Regions from separate parts of the Homo sapiens genome. Here region 1 is linked to region 2. The links come from fine-mapping of genetic effects on gene expression. A gene starts in region 2. The other region holds a variant in brackets. All regions are shown on one strand. Distances are from middle to middle.

Region 1 (9,824 bases), 100 kb before region 2:
GGGAAGGGGAGGAGAGGGCTCAGGATCAGGCATCAGCGAAAGTGGCACGGAAGGGCTGGGCTTGGAAAAGTGGGTGGGACTGAGATACAAGCAGAGGAGGGGAAGGTGCAGGAGCTGGGAGGGGAGCACTGCCAGCAGAGGTGCGGGTCGAGGTGGGGGAGCAGGAGCAGCTGCACTGAGGCTGAGCACTCGGGATGGCCCTGAGGGCTGGGTTGCCGGCATGCACTGTCCCCTCAGCCCCTTTCTTTGCAGCCCCTGGCCCACGTCTCCTAGCCCCTTGCCAGGGAGCCCCCTTCTTTATGGCGGTCAGGAGGAAGAATCAAATCTAAACCTGTCCTCGCCATGTCTGGAGTTCAGCACTGCTGTCGAGAGGTGGGACATTTGGGTGGCTTTCCCTGCTCCTGGGACACCGATCCAGCCCCATCCTGTGAGCCACCCAGAGGGAGTTCTAGTGCCCACACCCTTCACTCCCCACCTCCCAGCTGATGCTCACACTTTTATTATTATTATTATTATTGAGACAGGGTCTTGCTCTGTCACCCAGGCTGGAGGACAGTGGTGCAACCAGGACTTCCAGCAGCCTCTATCTCCTGAGCTCAAGCCCCTGAGTAGCTGGGACTACAGGCATGCGCCACCATGCTAATTTTTGTATTATGGGTAGAAACGGGGTCTCGCTATATTGCCCAGGCTGGTCTCGAACTCCTGAGCTAAAGTGATCCTCCCACCTCAGCTTCCCACAGTGCTGGGATTACAGGCATGAGCCAATGTGACCAGCTGATACTCACCTTTAAAGACATCAATACCAGGTCCCAGGATGGCAAGGCCTTTAGGACCTGGTATGTGACTGGCTGGCCCTGTCCCCTGCCCCATCTACCACCACACCTTCCACTCCTGGCCACAAAGCACAGTCATCTCAAGAGGTCAGTGGCCTGAGGGCCTTCTGCCCGGTTGCTGAAGGCCTTGGGATAGAACTGGGTCAACTCAGACCCCGGTTCTTACAGGAGGAAGAGGGAGAATGCAAGAAGCCCCTGCTGCAGCGGGCAATGACCTTCATGCCCCACCCTGAAAGCTTCTCTCTGGGCCAAGGGGAATCGGACCACTTCCAGGCAAGAGCCCTGAGCGGCCCCATTCCCAGTGTCTCCAGTGGGCAAGTCCAGCTCAGCCCAAAATACCAGCCACCTAGACCCTGTGGCCAGGCTCCGGCCCAGGTCACTCTGCCCTGATCCTTCCCAAAGCACCCACCACGACCAGATGAGAGAATATAGAAGATGAGGCTAGAGATAAGGGGCTGGCCGAGGCTGAAGCCTCCAGCTCTGTTCTCTTGGCTCACCCTGGCAGCCCCTAACCCTTCTTTCATCACACCTCTGTGCCGAGACCCCCAGAGTCCCAGTGGTGAGGACCAGGGAGGCCAGAGTGGGTGGGAGAGCCAAGGGAGAAAGAGTATCTTTCGCTTGCGTCGCATTTGGGGCAAAGGAAGGTGAAGGCAGGAGAAGCACCCTTCTTGCTAATGAGGGAGTGAAGGCTCACTGAGCTCAGGGCAGGGCAGTGGGGAAAGGGCTGGTACTGGCGCCTCGAGGCCCCACGCAGGGCTCAGCAGGGACCCTGGGCCACTGCAGGGACCAGGAGATTGTGGCCATGGGTTTTTAATTTTCACCTTTCACAGATTTCATTACCAGGAATTTCAGATTTGGATTAGGACTCGAGGCTTAGCTCTCAGAATGAGTCGAGGAGGGGCCCACAACAGCAGGTACAGGATGCCCCTGGGGGGTGAGTGTGTGGGGAGGGGCATCAGTCAGGAGCCAAGGAGAAATGCCCTTCCCCACGGGGACCTCTTAGCCTGATCAAGGGTTTGTGACGCGCAGACATAGAGCCACAGACGTAGAGACTCGGTTGTGTCCCCACAATCACATGCAGCCACGCAGCTCTGGAGACACCCTCACACTCTGTGCACGCACACTCATGTCCCTCATAACAGCGCCCCCCGATACATATGCTTGCACTTGCACACACAGCAGTGCTGGTCTCCTGATGACAGCTGTGCGCTGCCGATGGCTCCCGGGAGCTCTGTGCCCTCACTCCCTCCCCAACCCCCAGCATCTGCTGGGTCGATCCTCCAGGGATCTGCTGGTGAGCAGCTGCGGCCTGGTCCCTGGCTGGGGTGTGCCGAGGTGTGGCCCCCCACTCTGGGCCACAGTCCACCCTTGGAGCAGGCTCTGTCAGTGCCCAAGGAGAGGTGGAGCAGCTGGGGACCTCCCCAGCCCACCCGGAGTGGGCCTCTCTGTGCCACCTGGCTGGGGAGCTCCAGGGCCAGGTCTCCATGCCTGCCACATGCTAGGATGGGGAGAAAAGGGAAGGCAGGGAAGGAGAGGGGGCAGGGGCAGGGCCCAGGAGTGGCAGGTCTGACCTGGTCTTTGTGCCCCTCCAGGGCCTTCCGAGGCAGATGCAGCCCCAGGCAATACTGTCCAGGCTTGCGCCCACACTCAGTGAGGGAGGGCGTGTCCTCCAGGCTGCAGACGCACATTTTAATGGAGCTTCAATTATTCATGGAGCCTGGGAAGAGCAGCCCGGCTGCCAGCCCCGCAGCCACACTTTACAGAACTGCTTACGGCTCCTTGGCTGAGCCCGGATGGGGGCCGGGGGTATCCTCATCTAAAAGTGGAGGGAACACTGGGGAAGGTGAGGCCCCTAATGCAGCACCTGACCCCCGGGTGGGGGCTCGCCCAGCACCTTCCCCTTCTGCACAGTGAGAGGATGGTGGAGGTCCCAGGCCCCACACCCAGGGCATGGAAGCTGCCTGTGGGGCAGGGTGTGTCAGGAGGGGGCTGGGCCTGGGTGTGGGGTAACCGGTGGAGCCTGGTCAGGAGGCTAGGCTCATCTAAAGCTTGAGGCCAGAGCAGCTGCCTGTGGCTGCATGGAAGTGACTGCACAGCACCCATGTGGGGCCAAGGGCACCGAGGAGCCAGGCCCGGTGCCTGCAGGCTGAGCCTCTTAGTGCCTGAGACGCAAGACCTCACCCCAGGAGGAAAGTACCCACACTCAGTTTCTGTCCACCTAACCTCCCCCTTCACAACCACACCAGCACCCCTTCGCCACGGGAAGCTACTCCTCCCCACTCTCAGCCCCTGTGGTTTGGATGAGGTGGCACCACCCACACCAGAAGGGGCATGGGATCCTCCTGCCAAAGGAATTGGCTCGAGGATGATCAGGTAACACAATGGGGTGACAATGGCGGCCCAGAGATGCCAGGGCCACCCCTTGGCAAAAGGCTATCTGGGACTGAAGCCCACGAGAGGAGAAGCAGAGGCAAGGAATGGAGAAGCTAAGTTCTGACCACACCAAGGCAGAGCCTAGATACAGCCCTACCTGATGCTGTCCCTTGCAATTGAAATGTTCCTGTCCAATCCAGGATCCTTCACCCTCAGACTGCCTTCCTTCTACAGGCACCTGCTTTCTCCAGCAGGAAGGGGGATGGTAGGTGAGCACAGGGTTCCAGCCACCACTCCTCTCTTCTAGGCACCAGCTGAGCAGGGAGTGGCAGTGAAATGGCTCAGGGAAGGACAGCCTGCTGGGAATCCTGTCTCCTAGAGAGAGGACTCAAGGGTAACCAAGGGAGATGCAGATGTTGGCATATACAGCAACACCTTGATGATGAACACAGGCCCCTCACACACCTTTGTGTAGACACACGCGTGCACACACAAATGGTCAAACATATGCTCCTAGGTGCCTGTGCATGCACACACTCACATGGATACTGAGATCTGCATGGATGTGCACACAGACATCTGCACATACGCAGTCATGCACATTCTCAAACAAATACTCAGATACACACACACTCACAGGTATTCAGCCTCCAGGCATGCACGCACACACAAAGATCCAATCCCACCCACAGACACATTTGCTCATGAACCCAGGGCGTGCACACATTCCCACTGAGCCCCACACTTAACACAGGATCACGCATAGGGAGTGGAAATGTGAGCCAGGCTGGTGCCCTGGGCTCTGCAGGAAGTGGAGCAGGGGAGCCTCTGACGTTGTCTTCTTGTTCCCAGCAGAGCCGGGCTTATCTTCGGAAGGGTGAATGCCAGGTGAAAAATGATTAGCTGTCACTCAGCACTTGATAGATGCAGACCCCCTCTTACCCTTGCTCCTGGCAAAGGACTGACATGTTATTGATCCACTTAGTGTATTCATATCAGCAGCTGCAGAGGCTGAGCCAGGACTAACTGGAGAACATCAAAGCAGGGAGAAAAGAGAGATGTGGGTGGGGAACTGGGGGTGGCTGTTAGGCTGTTCCAGCTTCCCAAGGCCCGTGATGGGAGTTACGCTCGGGGTGGGAAACAGCTGTTTCTCCCCAGAAACCTCATCTCCATTCACATCCCCTCCAGGTTCGTGTTACCAATTGAGAATGCCCAGCCCCAGGGAAGAGGGGGAAGGGGTGCAACCAAGGAACAAAGAGGTAAGAAAGACAGGGCCAGAGGCAGCCTGATGACAAGACCACAGGAATGCTGGGTGTGCGAACTGCAAGAAAATAGCTTCTGGAGATGATGTTGAGCTTTCAACCTGTTTCCTGAGAGAATTTAGTCCCCAGAGGGGCTACGGTTCAGTCTACCAACAAATCTTTGCCTCCCCTCATGTATTTCCTTCTTTTACTACATGTACCTACCCATCCGTCTGTCCGTCCGTCCATCCATCAGTCTGTCCACCCATCCATCCATCCATCTGCCCATGCACCCACCCATCTGTCCATCTTTCCATCCGTCTGTCCATCCATCCATTCATCTATCACTCCCTCCCTCCCACCTTCCATCCACCCATTCATTCAGCTCATCCAGACTGTCTACCCACCCATCCATCCATCTGCCCACCCACCCACCTAGCTGTCCATCTTCCCATCTATCTGTCCATCCATCCATTCATCTATCCATCCATCCCTTCATCCATCCATCCATCCATCCATCCATCCATCCATCCATCCATCTCATCCATCAGTCTGTCTACCCATCCATCCATATGCCCACTCACTACCTATCTGTCCATCTTTCCATCTATCCATCCATCCATCCAAACAGCCATCCATCCATCCATCTGCCCACTCACCCACCCATCCATCCATCTGTCCATCCATCTGTCCATCCATCCATCCATCCATCTACCCACTCACCCACCCATCCATCCATCTGTCCATCCATCCATCCATCCATCCCTCTATACAAACATCTATCCCTCCATCACCTATCTGCCCACACATACTTCCATTTGCCCACTCACCTACCCATCTGTCCAACTTTCCATCCATCT[A/G]TCCGTCCTTCCATTCATCTATCCATCCACCCTTCCCTCCATACATTCTTCCACCCAGCCATCCCTCTATCCATTCATACATCCCTCCATCCATCTACCCACCCACCCACCCACACATCCATCTATCTGCCTACTCATCCATCCATCCATCCATCCATATGCCCACTCATCTGCCTACCCATCCATCTTTCCATCAATCTGTCCATCCACCTATCTATCCATCCATCCACCCATCCATCCATCCATCTTCCCACTCACCATCCATGCATCCATCTGTCCATCCATCCAACCACACAACAGACATGTGTTAAGAACCTAGCATAGCAGTGTTAGGCCCTGCACACCCTGTGGTGATGCAGTGTGGGAAGGTGACTGTGGGTGTTCAGAGATAGGAAGATACCTGGGCTCTGTCCTGGAGGATGCCCGATCTCAGAGGACAGAAGATGGAGAAGGACTGGGGACTGGAGGAATGTGAGTTGGCTCAGGGCTCCATCTTCTGGTGTCAAGGCAAACACATGCTGCTGGAGCCAATGCTGACTCCGAGGACCCTGCAATAGGGTTTCCAGCCATGGCTGCGGGCCCCCAGAGAGGGTCCCCGAGAGCACTAGCTTTCTGGTTGGGTCCAGTTGCCTCCCAATGAACGATTCCCTTGTGATTACATGGACTTTGATTTCCTATTTCCACAGATAAGACAGAGCTGAGATGAGTGGCCCTGAACCTGGGATGGCCAGAGGTGCAAGCTGAAGACAGACAGGGCAACTCTGGTCAGATCAAACTGTAGCCACCCTGGCTTGGGCCAGGTCTGGGCACCACTCCTCCCTGCGTCCACGTCGGGCCAGTGCTGGTGGCCACTCTGCTTTCAGCAATGATGGACGTGGCCCTCACTGATATGGAAGCCCCTGAACTGGCCCCAGCTCCCAGGCTAGGCTGACCCCTGCAAGGGGAAGGAACTGCATAGTGGAAGGAGGATAGGGGAGTGGGGGCCTGCCCTGGAGGCTCCTGACACTGCATACCACTGCCTGCCCAGCTCCCTGCCTCCTGTGTCCCCATGGTCTTGAGGGGAGAACTTCCAGCTCTCAGCAGTGTGCTCTGCTCAGCTTACTGTGGGAGCCCCAGGAAGAAAAGGGCTGCCCCTCCACTGTAAGCAGATGCCAGGGCTGGCAGAGAAGCTTTGGATGGTGGACAGAGGCCAATGGGCAGAGTGTGTTTGCTACATGCATTCCGTGTGTGTGTGGCAAGCATATGTGGTGTGTGTGGTGTGCAGTGTGTATGTGTGGTGCATGTGTGTGCAGTGTGGGTATGTGTGGTATATATGTGTGGTGCATGTGTGTGGTACATGTGTGCGGGGTGTGTGGTGCATGTGTGGTGTATGTGGGGTATGTGTGATGCATGTGTGGTGTGTATGTATGTGTGGTGTGTGTGTGCAGTGTGTATATGTGATGTGTGTGTGGGAGTGTGTATGTGTGTGTGGCCTGCGTATGTGTGGTGTATGTGTGGCGTGTGTATGGGGTATGGGGTGTGTATGTGTGGTACATGTATGGGTGTATGTCATGTGTGCATGTCACCACCAGGCCCACACAGTCCCTCCTGTCCCTCCCCATGGTATGAGGAGCTGCCCATGCCCTTCTTCCGTGGGAGTTTCTGGGCATAGAGGGTGACTCCAGCCTGGCGGAGGAGCTGTGTGTACAGACAGCGGGGCTGCCGACACCACAGTGCTGCCTAGGAGAGAACATGTAGTGCCGAAGCTCTCCCAGAGGGGAAGCTGGAGCCCCACGGCCTTGTGTGTGGCCTGAAGCCTTTCCATTTCTATCTAGTGCCTGACACACTGAGTGTGTGGCTGCAGCAGTAGCTCTGTCACAGAGGTCACGGACGGGCTGGCTTCCCTGGCCTTCAAGAGAGCTGCTGGAGGAGACAGTGGGTATCACGTGTCATGCTCAAGTGTAAAGCCAGGCTCACTGTGCATGGTTCAGGTCCGACTGCATGTGATTTTTTTTTTTTTTTGTAACTCACAGTAAATTGCTCCAGGTCCCCATCCCCCTCTTTAGGACCCTGTGAAGCTCCCTGGACCCAGACAGCCTGGGGTGTCTGGGGGATCTCTGCCTTCCATTCCCTCTGGTCAGATGGCTGGGAAGTCAGCCCTGGGGCTGCAGTCCAGTCTCCCTAGGTGTCCCCCCGAGTTCTGTCTCTCAGCGCCTGCCACCTCCAGGGATGGTTGCCACTCTCCAGGGAACACTCATTTTCAGCAACTCCCCATCCCCTCAGCTTTGGACTTCGTGTCTGCCTCACCTCCTTCAAAGACACTTCCCCTAGAACAATTCCTCAGTGAGCTTAGGCTTCCTAAAACAGAAGTGTCCAAGGACCCAGTCCCCATCTCCCCAGCAAGGACAGAGAGACCTTGAGAGGAGAAATTCCACCAGGAGTGAACACACATGGGTGTCACCAATGACACCAGAGCCACTTGATCCTGCCTCCCCGCCCAGGGCTCCCCCACCCGGCCCACCCCCGGCTGACAGAAGGTATTTGCCTTATATCAAGGGAGGTGTAAACATTTTACAAAACATTTCAGCAGCTTCAGCAACAGTTTAGAAAACACGTTTTATTTTGGAGGTGGTAGACACCCGCCTGAGTTCGCCTGGTCTTTGGCTGCAGTGTCACACCTATGACATCACTGGCAGGGGGGTGGGGGAGAGGAGGCTGGGCACACCCAGTCCCGGGAGCCCAGGTCTCGGGTGGAAGCCCTGGAGTGAAGAGACACCTCTCCAACAAGTCCAGAGCCCCTGTAGTGCAGAGCAAGACCTGGAGGCCTCCTTCCCTCTCAGTAGCAACAGAGATTCAAGACTTCAGGACTCCAAGGACAGATGCACAGGCCCCGCCCACAGCTCTCTCTCTCCCTCCTCAGCCCTAGGGGACCGTGACCTCTCCCCACTGGATCCAGCAGGGCCAGCCTCATGCTGGCTGAGCTGCCTCAACACCCTCCTCCGCAGGCTGCGGCTCTGACCTCTTCTTGGGGAGAAGCCAGGAGGATTCTGGGTAAACACAGGGACTGAACGTGTACGTTGAGCTCATCTTCCTCCTGAGATCCCAGCATAATGACAGCGAAGGAATGAAACAGAGGGGCCCATGGTAATGAAGAGAGCTAGAGAGGAACAGCAGCAGATGCCAGATTGCAACATGATTTTGGAAGATGGGAAGGGGACGGAGGGTGGGAGCAGATTCTACAGGGTGAAGGGGACATGCTAGCTGAGCCTGCAGAGGAGTGCGGGGAAGACTGCCTTGCCCCACAGAATGCAGCAAAGTGCAGGACTTGGAAGCACCAGGACAGGCAGATGGCAGGGGTGAAATGTGGGCTTAAAAATCTAGTGGCAGTTGGGCACAGAGGCTCACGCCTGTAATCCCAGCACTTTGGGAGGCCAAGATGGGAGGATCACTTGAGTCCAGGAGTTCAAAGCAGCAGTGAGCTATGATTGGGCCACTGTAGTCCAGCCTGGGCAACAGAGCAAGAGTCTGTTTAAAAAAAAAAAAAAAGAAAGAAAAAAAGACAATCCAGTGACCAGGCAACTATCCCCTACTGCACCCCTGGCGGGAGATGGAAGATGTACCTGCTGAGGAAACTGCAAATAACCTATGGACTCCAAGCTGGGAGGAGGAGCAGGGAGCACTGCTTTCAGAGGACTAACTGGGAGGCTTCAGACAGAGTGATCAAAGCCCTGGCTGCCTTCCGGTCCTGTACACACTGGGGGTCTTCTGCCAGGATGGAGACTGCAAGTCCGTTTGGTATAGAATGAACTGCATTCCCCTCCAAATCCACCTTGAAGTCCTAACCCCCAGTACCTCTGAATGTGACTGCAGATAGAGTCTTTGCAGAGGTAATTAAGTTAAAATGAGACAGGAATAATACAAGGTGGCCACAGGAGAATAAAAATTCCAGGCAGTAGTTTCATATGACACCCTGAAAAACAGGGTGTGGACCAAGCTGGCTAAGACCAACTGGGCCCAACATGGCACTAGATATGACCTCGGTTTCTCCTAGGACCTCGCTGTATGCTCATTAACATCCTAACTCACTCACCCACCAGTGCTGTGACAGTTCCGAGACCACCCATGTTTGGTGTAAAAACGTGTGGCACTACAGTTCTAAGAAATCTCCACTTTTTTCCCAGGAATTTTCATGAATATTCCACCCCTGGATTAAATAAACGCATAAAGGTAGCAGCCCCACACCCCACCACACGACTCTTGAGTCTGCCGGCACTCCTTTCTTGAGCGTGTACTTTTTTTTTCTTTTTTGAGATGGAGTCTCGCTCTGTTGCCCAGGCTGGAGTGCAGTGGTGTGATCTCGGCTCACTGCAACCTCTGCCTCCTGGGTTCAAGCAATTCTCCTGTCTCAGCCTCCTGAGAAGCTGGGACTACAGGCGCGCACCACCACGCCTGGCTAATTTTTGTATTTTTATTAGAGACAGGGTCTCACCATATTGGTCAGGCTGGTCTCGAACTCCCAACCTCAGGTGATCTGCCTG
Region 2 (9,824 bases):
TGTCACCATGCAGATTGCTCATGCCCAGCCAACTTTCTGAGGTTGCAGGACACTGATGCCATATCTACATCCAGGCACCAACCTCAATTTAAAAAAAAAAATTTATTTTGAGACAGTCTCGCTTTGTCGCCTAGGCTGGAGTGCAGGGGCATGATCTCGGCTCACTGCAACTTCTGTCTCCCAGGTTCAAGTGATTCTCCTGCCTCAGCCTCCTGAGTAGCTGGGACTACAGGTGAGCACCACCATGCCCGGCTAATTTTTGTCTTTTTAGTAGAGACTGGGTTTCACCACGTAGGTCAGGCTGGTCTCAAACTCCTGACCTCAAGTGATCCACCCACCTCGGCCTCCCAAAGTGCTGGGATTACAGGCGTGAGCCACCGTGCCTGGCCGATCTTTTAAAAACATATTTACTTATTTATTTCATTTTTTGCTGTGCCACTGCCGGGTCACATTGATCTCCTTGGGCCAGCACTATATAAATCTCCAGTTTATAACTCGTCACCTTCTGGTTAGCTGAAAGGCTGGCCACTCATTCCACATGGTGTTTATCGGCTCTAATTGCCACGGTTGCTCACTAAAGAGCAGCCATGCGGGGCGCGGTAGCTCACGCCTGTAATCCCAACACTCTGGGAGGCCAAGGTGGGCGGATCACGAGGTCAGGAGATCGAGACCATCCTGGCCAATATGGTGAAACCCTGTCTCTACTAAATACAAAATTAGCCGGGAGTGGTGGCGCATGCCTGTAATCCCAGCTACTCGGGAGGCTGAGGCAGGAGAATTGCTTGAACCCAGGAGGCAGAGCTTGTGGCAAACAGAGATCGCAACATTGCACTCTAGCCTGGGCAACAAGAGTGAAACTTTATCTCAAAAAAAAAAAAAAGAAAGAAAGAAAGCTGCCATAATCCTGTGTCCTCTTTCCTGCTCACAGGTTCCCCGCTGCCCCACGTTTCTCCAGTGTGGCTGCCACGCACCAGTAAATCAGGGAGGGAGGTTTTTCCAAGCTGCAAAGCAGCAGATGTAGCTAAGACAGGGATCTCAGATTCCAGGCCAGGCAGCAGGCAGGAGATGGGGACATCAGCCAGGGACCTCAGCTTGGGCCACACCTTCCCCATCAGCCCCTACAAGCACAGCCGCACTCACTAAAAATTTCTCCAGCCAGACGCATCAGCAATGATCAAAGCTCCCCTTCCTCTCTTCCATCAGCAAAACCACAAAAAGCCTATCAGGCTGCCTCTGGCAGGAACTCAGAGCTCAGAGCAGGGGAGCAGCCTGCGCGAGGTTTCCAATCAGGCAAATCTGACTCTCCCCTTTTTAAGAGAACTGAAGACAAATTCTGAGAGTAGCCCACCAGACACACTTTCTCAACAACCATACGGCAAAAAAGTCGTTTTTGAACTTTCCCAGACTTATTAGCTTACATAAACAGAGATTTGAATAAATGTTTAAAAAATGAAATTCCCTGGATACCCTGTAATCAGTAAATGTTCATTATGGAAACACAGCAAATATGCATGAAATTTCCCAAGTGATATTCTGGCTACAAGATTATAAAGGCATCTCTAACAGCAGGCTGAGTTACAAAGCATCCTCTGTCGTCGGTTACAGTCCGAGGGGGATGTTCTACCAAGCCCAGGAGGTCAGACGAGCCTGCTCTCCTCTCCCAACTGGAGCCAAGGAAAATCAAAAGATGCTCATTTTGCCTGCTCAGGCAATTTATAAATGAGCCCCCACGCTGCCTGATGGATGCCTCTCGATAAATAATTAATCCTTGACCTTGCTTTAAGAAAGCCTTGACTTTTTAATTTGGGGTCTTTTTAAAAATCAATACCCGGGAAACATAATTCACTCTTGCCGAGTCTGATTCCAGGTTAATAAATAAATAAGTAAATAAATGAGCTGCACTGTTTGTGTGTCCCAGGGCGACTGGGCCAGGCAATGGGTCAGGTTCCGGCTTTGAGGTTTTTCTGTGTTCAAATGCTATTGGATAATTGATCAGCCAGTCCCACTGGAACCAACATTCAGACCCTCAAGAGGTCCCTCTCTTCAGGGTTCCAATGTTATTCCTCCCGTGGGTCACTTCACAGAGGCCAGTCTGCTGAACGCTCCTGAATGAACTCCCACGCCGCCTTCTGTGCTTGGGGTGTCCTGATTAAAATTAAAAGAGGATCTCCTGCTGGGATGAGTGTCCTTCCTGTGGCCTGTCTGCCTTGCCTTTGGGACAGGGCACAGGGTGGGCAGGAAAGGTCATGACAGCTGGAAAATGTTAAGGGCTCTGCCACACCTGCTCCACGGGTGCCCTGTCCTAGGGCAGGACTTAGGGAAAGACTTCCCCACAGGTAGGCAAGGGTCAAGGTGAACTCAGAAGAGAAAGGTTACCCAGGAAAGTGGGCTTGGTATTGTAGCTCCTGGGGGCCTTGGGCGGCGGTGGGAAATAAAAGGGGGTTGATCTGCCTCTTACCCCTCTGTCCCCCGCCCCTCTCCACCATCCACTCCAAAGCAGCTACTACCTCCCTGCACCCAACGCCTCTCCCACGTGCTCTGCTGCTGCGCCAGATCGCGCCAAGCAGATGGAGAGGGGCCGGGACGCGCGTTCCCCTTAACGGAGCTGATCACGGCTCCTGAGCCAGCGGGAGTGGCCCAGGGACGCAGAGTCCTCTGGGACGCCGGAGACGACTGCAGGACAGAGAGCCCCAGGATCGGCGCCTACTTCTGGGTTAAAACAGACAGCCGGGCAGCAGCGCCCACAGCCGAGGGCGCCGCAGCCGCTTCAACTCCGGGTCGGGGTCGCGGGCCTGGAGACAAGATGTACGCGAAAGTTAGGGCGGCGGGAGTCCCGCACTGGAGAAGGAATCGGGGTCACATCAGACCCAAGCCCCAGCATCGGGCACTGCCAAAACCCGTGATCGCCCTCCTGGCCCGGCTGGCCTCCAGCGAGGCCAGAGCGGGTCTGCAGAGTCGGTAGCCGGAGTTGCAGCCGCCGTCAGAGCTCGGCTCGGTCCCGCGGCCAAACGGATCATTTCCCCGCCCCCTGGAGCCGCCCCAGGCTCCGACTCCCGCACTCCCGACACACGCACGCACACACCTTCACACCATCGCTGACGCACGCACACTCGCCTCCAGCACTCACAGGCCGGTGCCCTGGAGAGTTGCGGGTCGGGGACGCGCGCGACGGAGCCGCTGGGTAGGAAGCCAAGGCCACTTAAACTTCCCCCATAGTCTCTGCCCGCCGCAACCCGTCCGGAGCCCCGGCTCCGAGCGCGCCAGGAAGCCCCAGCGCCCCGAGCGCTCCTGCCTGGCCCTCGGCGCTCGCTGCTCAGCGCCCGACGCCGCCTCCCCGCGGGCAGCACCGAGGGCCAGGAGGCGGAGCGGGAGTCCGCAGGGACCAAGAGGGCCCGAGGGACGGCAGTTCCCAGAAGCGCGGCAGCGAGTGAGATCCAAGGAGAGAAAGTCTAATTAAAGTTCCCGCTACCGGGGCCGGTCCCCAAAGTGCAACCAGACCCGAGCCCCGCGCGCCCACCTCCGCCCGCAGCTTCGGACTCCCATTCGCGTGCGGTGGCGGGGATGGCGAGCGGTGCAGTCCGGGGCCCGCTCGGGACCCCTTCCTGGCGTCTCTGCAGGCCAGGAGCCTGCGCAGGGCGGGAACAGGGGTGGGGCAGGGGCGCAGCCACTTACCTGGCGCAGCGGACGCACCCGAGGCCGCGGGCGCCTCCAGTCCGGGAGCGGTTCTCCGCGGCGGATCCTCTGCTTGGGGCGCGCAGGCGGCGGAGAGGACCTCCGACCCAGCTCGGGCCCGGTGCCTCCGCCCGCTCCAAGCGGAACCCAGTGCGATCTGTGGGCGAGCAGCGTGGGGCCGGCAGCCGGAGCGTGCGGGGAGCGAGAGGGCGCGGGGCGGCGTTCCTCTTCGGCCCCCGGCGCGATCGGTCCCCCACCTCCTGCTGCCGCCGCCGCCTCGTCCTCTCTCCTCCCCGCAGCACTGCCGGATCCGGCTTGCGCGCCGGGAAGGCTCCCAGCGAAGTGAGAGCGAAGCCTCCGGCGAGGCTGGAAATAGCGCCGCGCCCGCCCGGCGCCCCGCCCCCGGCCCGTGCCCCGCCCCGCCGTGGTGGCGGCTACGGCGGTGGCCGGGCCGGGCGGGGATCGCTCCAGCGATGCACTCGGCCCTCCCGGGGGCTCGCGGGCGCCGCGCCCACGCGCGCTCTGCGGCTCCCGCGGCCCCTCTGGCAGCGCTCTCAGAAAGAGTCGCTGCTGGGCGCGGTCCGGCGGCCGCGGGGGTGGGAGCGGTCGTGGCTGGGGCTGCGCCGGTCTCCCGGTTCAGGAGAGCCGGACTCCGGCCTGACGCTAGGCTCCAGACCGCGGCCAGTGCTGCCACTGCCTCGGTGGGTCGCACGCGGCGCCAACCCGGGAAAAGGACCAGGCGTCACCGGGGCGGGCCTTGACCACAGCGGGGCAGGGGCGCGCGCCCAGGACCCGATGCTGCGGGGGCGCAGGGCCGGTGAAAGGCGGAAGATTGATCCTGAGGAAGATTCTGGGATATCCCTGGGCTTCAGCTCGCGTGGAATTCGGTCAAGGCCGCGAGCTGCCTCAGGCCCGGGTGTCCGCATCCATCCTCAAATCCCTGGGGCTCTAGATTCTGCTGAAAGTGCCCTGCGAACAGGTGCTCCCTTCAGGACTTCATCCTGGAAGTTTGTGTCGGGTCACCAGCCTGAGAGCGGGGCCAACCGACCCTCTTCATACACACTCGGGAAAACAGCGTGGAGGGTGGAACCGGCCCACGGCCACACAGCACCGGGACAGAGTAGGGACAGGAACACGGGGCCCTGGATTCGGGTCCTTGTTCTTCCTAAGAAGAGGCAGCCCCAGCCTGCAGGGGACAAGCAGGCCTTGGGAAGGGGGGCAACTGCTTTCTCACAGGAGCTGGAGGAAACTGTGCACACAGTCACCTGTTAGTCTTGAAGGGACACTCAGTATTTTCAAACAACAGCAGAGAAGCCTTTAATAAAGTGAAAGACCCTTACTCTCTCCTCTCTAATGGTACCTGCTGGCTGGTTGGCCTGACTCCTACCAGCTGACCTAGAGTGAGTGATGGAATTGGGGAGTGAGCTGGGCCCATGGGTCTTGACTGACCAGAGTGGGGGACACCAGGCGGAGAGCAGAGCCACTCCTGGGGACGGCCAGGGAGCCCCTCAGCCCCAGGGCCATGAGGCCTCCTTAATGCCCCAGGTAAGCTCAGAGCATCCAAAAATAGACCAGGACAGATAAGAAGATAAATAGAAGCATGACAAAGAGATCATGGTCTTCCTTTAATTCTTGCAGCAACAGAGTAGACATTATCACTCCCGTATTACAGATGAGCGAATTGAGATGCAAAAATGCCACCATTTTGCTGGACTCCACGCATCTGGAGAATGGCCCAGGTGTGATGATTCCAAACTGGGATAGGCTTTGTTCTGGGGTTCCCTTTCCAGGACTTTAGGCTCGGAGTGACCCAGGCCTGGGGCTGCGCTGGGACCCAGGCACACTCCACTGGCTGCACGCATGAGGGGAATGTGTGTGTGTGTGTGTGTGTGTGTGTGTGTCTGAAATCACCCTCCTCCGCCTCAGTCAGGTGCAGATTGGAGGAGCTGAGTGCAAGGGCCAGGGACTCAAGTGTCAGGAAAAACAGGGCAGTGGAACCCTTATTCATCCTACATCCCAAAGCTGTTGGAGCAGAGCAGGAGAGAAGGTAGGAACAAAGAGAGGGGAGAGTGGAGTGAGCAAAAAGTCACTTGCCGGACTAGCTCACAGTGCAATGACCCCATCCCTGTCCCTGTGGTCCCCTTACCCCACACTTGCAGCCCCTCTTGCCACCCAAGGTCCTGACCATAGCTTGGCTGGGCAGCTGCCCATGAGCTCCCTGTCTGCAGTTAGGCCTGGAACAGAGCACACAACTTTTGCCACAGAGGCCTGATGGTCAAGAGAATCTCTTCAGTACCATGAACACTCCAGAGGGCAAATGCATGCACACACACACACACATGCACACACACGGAGAGAGAAAGAGAGACTTAACTGCAATGGGGAGATAATAGGAGCTCCCATTTCCAGAGCCCAGCCTCAAAGCTGGAAAGGGGGCTCTGGACCATGAGTACTTCCATGCGACAAGTCTACACAGGCTTTATTTCCCTGGGATGCATCTATACAGGCTTTGCCGTGACCAGTGAGTGGAGCGAGCCAAGCCATCTCAGCAACACTGTGCATCTGTGTGCCGCGATCCTCCTGGGAAGGATGGTTTTTCCATTAGCTTTCCCAACTGTACTTATTAGCACTTATTTGCATCTAATATTCAGGCAGACACCACTAGGAATCAATAACGCTGCATTCCTTTGACATTCTCTCCATTTTCCATTTTTAACTCAGACTTCCTTCTTGTTTTGAGAGGCCATGGGGGAAATCCCCAAAGGGGGCCTGAGGCCCCTGGCACCAACTCGCAGTGAGTTTTCCTCCGAGATTTGCCAAGGGCTGCGTGCCCTTTTTTGAAAGTCAGGCTCAGCCTCTGCAGCGAGGGAGGAGCAGGAAGGCTGCAATTCCCTGCAGGAAGCCTTGTGTGCTCACTTGCGATTTTTGATATGTGTGTCTCCACCGAAAGATTAGTGGCAAACTTGTCTCTTTGCATCCCAACTAAGGTGAAAGACATTTTTAGTGCATGGCCCCATGCGCCCACAGCCTAAGCCCCAGAAGGGCTAATAGAGAGGTTCAGGTGCCAATCTGTTTGCTGCAACAAGGATACAGGAAAGAGGAGGGGGCTTGGCTCTGGGACGCAGGCAGACCCCCGCCTCCACTGGCTCTGGGCTCCCTTTCCTCAGGCCGTTCCTGCAAGTGAAGGTTCCTGCCCGTCTTTGGGCTGGAGGCTGAAGGTGGCACAGTGGGAAGCTGAGACTGTCTCACATTGTGTTTGGCAAGACTGAGTCTTGAGTCCTGAACCTTCCATCTGTTGCCATGAGAGGAACCAGAACAGGCTGGGCATGGTGGCTCATGCCTGTAATTCCAGCACTTTGGGAGGCTGAGGTGGGCAGATCACTTGAGGCTAGGAGTTTGAGACCAGCCTGGCCAACATAGCAAAACCCCATCTCTACTAAAAATACAAAAGTTAGCAGGGCATGGTGGTGCTCACCTGTAGCCCCAGCTACTCAGGAAGCTGAGGCAGGAGAATCACTTGAATCTGGGAGGCAGAAGTTGCAGTGAGCTGAGATTGTGCCACTGCACTCCAGCCTGGGTGACAGCGTGAGACTCTATTAAAAAAAAAAGAAGAAGGAGAAGGAGAAGGAGAAGAAGAAGAAGAAGAAGAAGAAGAAGAAGAAGAAGAAGAGAAGAGGAAGAAGAGGAAGAAGAGGAGGAAGAGGAGGAAGAGGAGGAAGAAGAGGAAGAAGAGGAAGAAGAAGAAGAAGAAGAAAAGAAGAGGAAGAAGAGGAAAAAGAAGGAGGAGGAGAAGAAGAGGAAGAAGAAGAAGAAGAAGAAGAAGAAGAAGAAGAAGAAGAAGAAGAAGAAGAAGAAGAAGAAGAAGAAGAAGACGAGGAAGAAGAAGAAGAAGAAGAAGACTTGTTCCACAGAGGAGTTTGGGAGCCATCTATACTGGCAGGTCGGGAACACCTCATCTGTCTCCCTGCATCCCATGGGAGGAAGAAGGGAATGATGGGATGGGCCAGGAGGTCTGCTTCAGCTCTCCCAGGTGCCAGCTAGGGGGTCTTGAACTTGTCTCCTAACCCCTCAGAGCCTGTTCCCTGTATGCAGAGACAATAGACTGTCCCTGCAGAGGAAAGGTGAAGGGTGTCATGGCATTTTGGGAATTGGAGTCCTGTGACCAGACTGCCCTTAGCCACCCACAGACTAGTCACCTCAGGGTATGACGTGGCCTGGCCTTGCTTCCACGTCCAACATCTGGCCCTGTAATGGCCTCTGCAATATTGTGACCCCAAGGCTTCCTGAAGTCAGTTCAACACACAGACAGGCCAGTGACGTGCTGATCAGAGTGCCATCCAGGCGGGAGACTCCTCCTGGGAACGGACCTGCCTTCCTCAGCTGCTCTCTGGGGCCTGTGTGGGCTCCGGGCCATGCCTTCCCTCCCCAGGCCTCGACCTCCCCATTCGAAAGATGAGGGATGGGGGCCCAGGATCTGAAGGCCTGCTGTGCAATTCCATGATTCCTAAAAGTTCCTCACCAGGGAACGTGGCCCAGACTCATTTCCAGCCAAGGTATCCCTTGGCCACCTTATGGGATGAATGTTCCTTCCCAGGCCTTTTCCTCCTCTCTCCTTTCCCCTTTTCTGTCACCTCTTGGGTTTTCAAGGAGCTGGAGGGTCACTTTGTTTCCTTCTGAGTTGAGTTGTCTGAAATTTCCTGATGTCAATATGCCTGGGTGGGTATCCCCTGCATAAGCAACATTGCTGGGGGTTCTGGGCATCCCTGAACCCCATATACCTGTCACAATTTCGAAATTTCACCATCATTCCTCAGGGTATAAGAATGGTTTCTCTTGGCTGGGTATGGTGGCTCACGCCTGTAATCCCAGCACTTTGGGAGGCAGAGAAGGGCAGATCACAAGGTCAGGAGTTCAACACCAGCCTGGCCAACATGGTGAAACCCCATCTCTACTAAAAACACAAAAATTAGCCAGGCGTGATGGTGCACGCCTATAATCCCAGCTACTGGGGAGGCTGAGGCAGGAGAATTGCTTGAACCCAGGAGGTGGAGGTTGCAGCGAGCTGAGATGGCGCCACTGCACTCCAGCCTGGGTAACAGAGCAAGACTCCGTCTGAAAAAAAAAAAAAAAAAAAAAGGAATAGTTTCTCTTTAAAGAGAAGTTTTTCTGGGGCAGGCTAAAGTGACACCAGTCCTTAACACAGAAGAGAGTTGGTGAACAGATGTGGTTTTCTAGAGAGTGCACAACAGAAACTATGACTAACTTGCAAAGAAAGGGGAGACTTTATTTTTCTGAGACAGAATCTCACTCTATCACCCAGGCTGGAGTGCAGTGGCATGACCCTAGCTCACTGCAACCTCAAACTCCTGGGCTCAAAGGGTCCTCCCACCTCGTTCTCCTGAGTAGCTGGGAACACAGGTGTGCACCACCATGGCCAACTAATTTTTTATTTTTTATTTTCTGTAGAGACAGGGTCTCACTGTGCTACCTAGGCTGGTCTCGAACTCCTAGGCTTGAGTCATCTTCCTGCTTGGCCTCCCAAAAGTGTTGGGATGATAGGCATGAGCCACCATGCCCTGCCAGACTTTCTTAAAAGGACACTGGGGAATCCAACAGAGCAGAGAGGCGCTGAGTACCCAGGAGGGAAGAAGGCAGGAACCAGGGAATAAGGTTCGAGTACTCTGGGGGCAGCTGTTGGCTCTCTAGGATGGGTCGCCATCCCTAGAGCTGCAGACCACTCACTGCCTTGGTGGCCCTGATGCGCTCCCCACAGCCTGAGGTGGGCAGGCCTGCAGGGGGCTTTGCTGACCCCAGAGCCCAAGACAGAGCCATGCCCAAGCCAAGTCCAGCCCCTCCATGCAAACCAGGCTTGGAGCCAGCTTGGCTACTCTATTGAGGTCTTGCCAAACTCAAGTTCATTTTGATGCTTCTTAATTAAAAAAAAAAGATCTCCACTGGACTGCCTGCTCCTGGTCACTCCTTCAGTTCCCAAGTATCCTTGAGACGGATGATCCTCCAGTGGCGGGGCTCCTTCTCCAGGCCTGCCCGTGGTGGGGCGAAGGACACTGTCTAAGGTGATGATGAACTGCAGGAGGGGGTCTAAGACGCTCTTGACAGAAATAGTAGAGATTCTTCTTTTTACTTTTGGGGTA

The links. PIP is the estimated chance that this variant, and not a neighbour inherited with it, causes the effect.
Region 1: its variant is the best candidate, but not a certain one, in a credible set for the expression of CHST8 in whole blood (TOPMed, PIP 0.82).

The regions. Positions count from the first base shown.
Region 1 is chr19:33,717,231-33,727,054 of GRCh38, reverse strand. All of the region lies in intron 3 of CHST8 (carbohydrate sulfotransferase 8), which reads right to left. Among named protein-coding and RNA genes, the nearest start is that of KCTD15, 75 kb to the left of the region's middle. RefSeq lists enhancers at 1,678-2,274, 2,275-2,872. The variant A/G (reference allele first, on the strand shown) is at 5,308.
Region 2 is chr19:33,616,145-33,625,968 of GRCh38, reverse strand. CHST8 (carbohydrate sulfotransferase 8) reads right to left here and starts at 4,016. Exons shown (of 5, transcript NM_001127895.2): 1 at 3,673-4,016. RefSeq lists an enhancer at 4,311-5,055.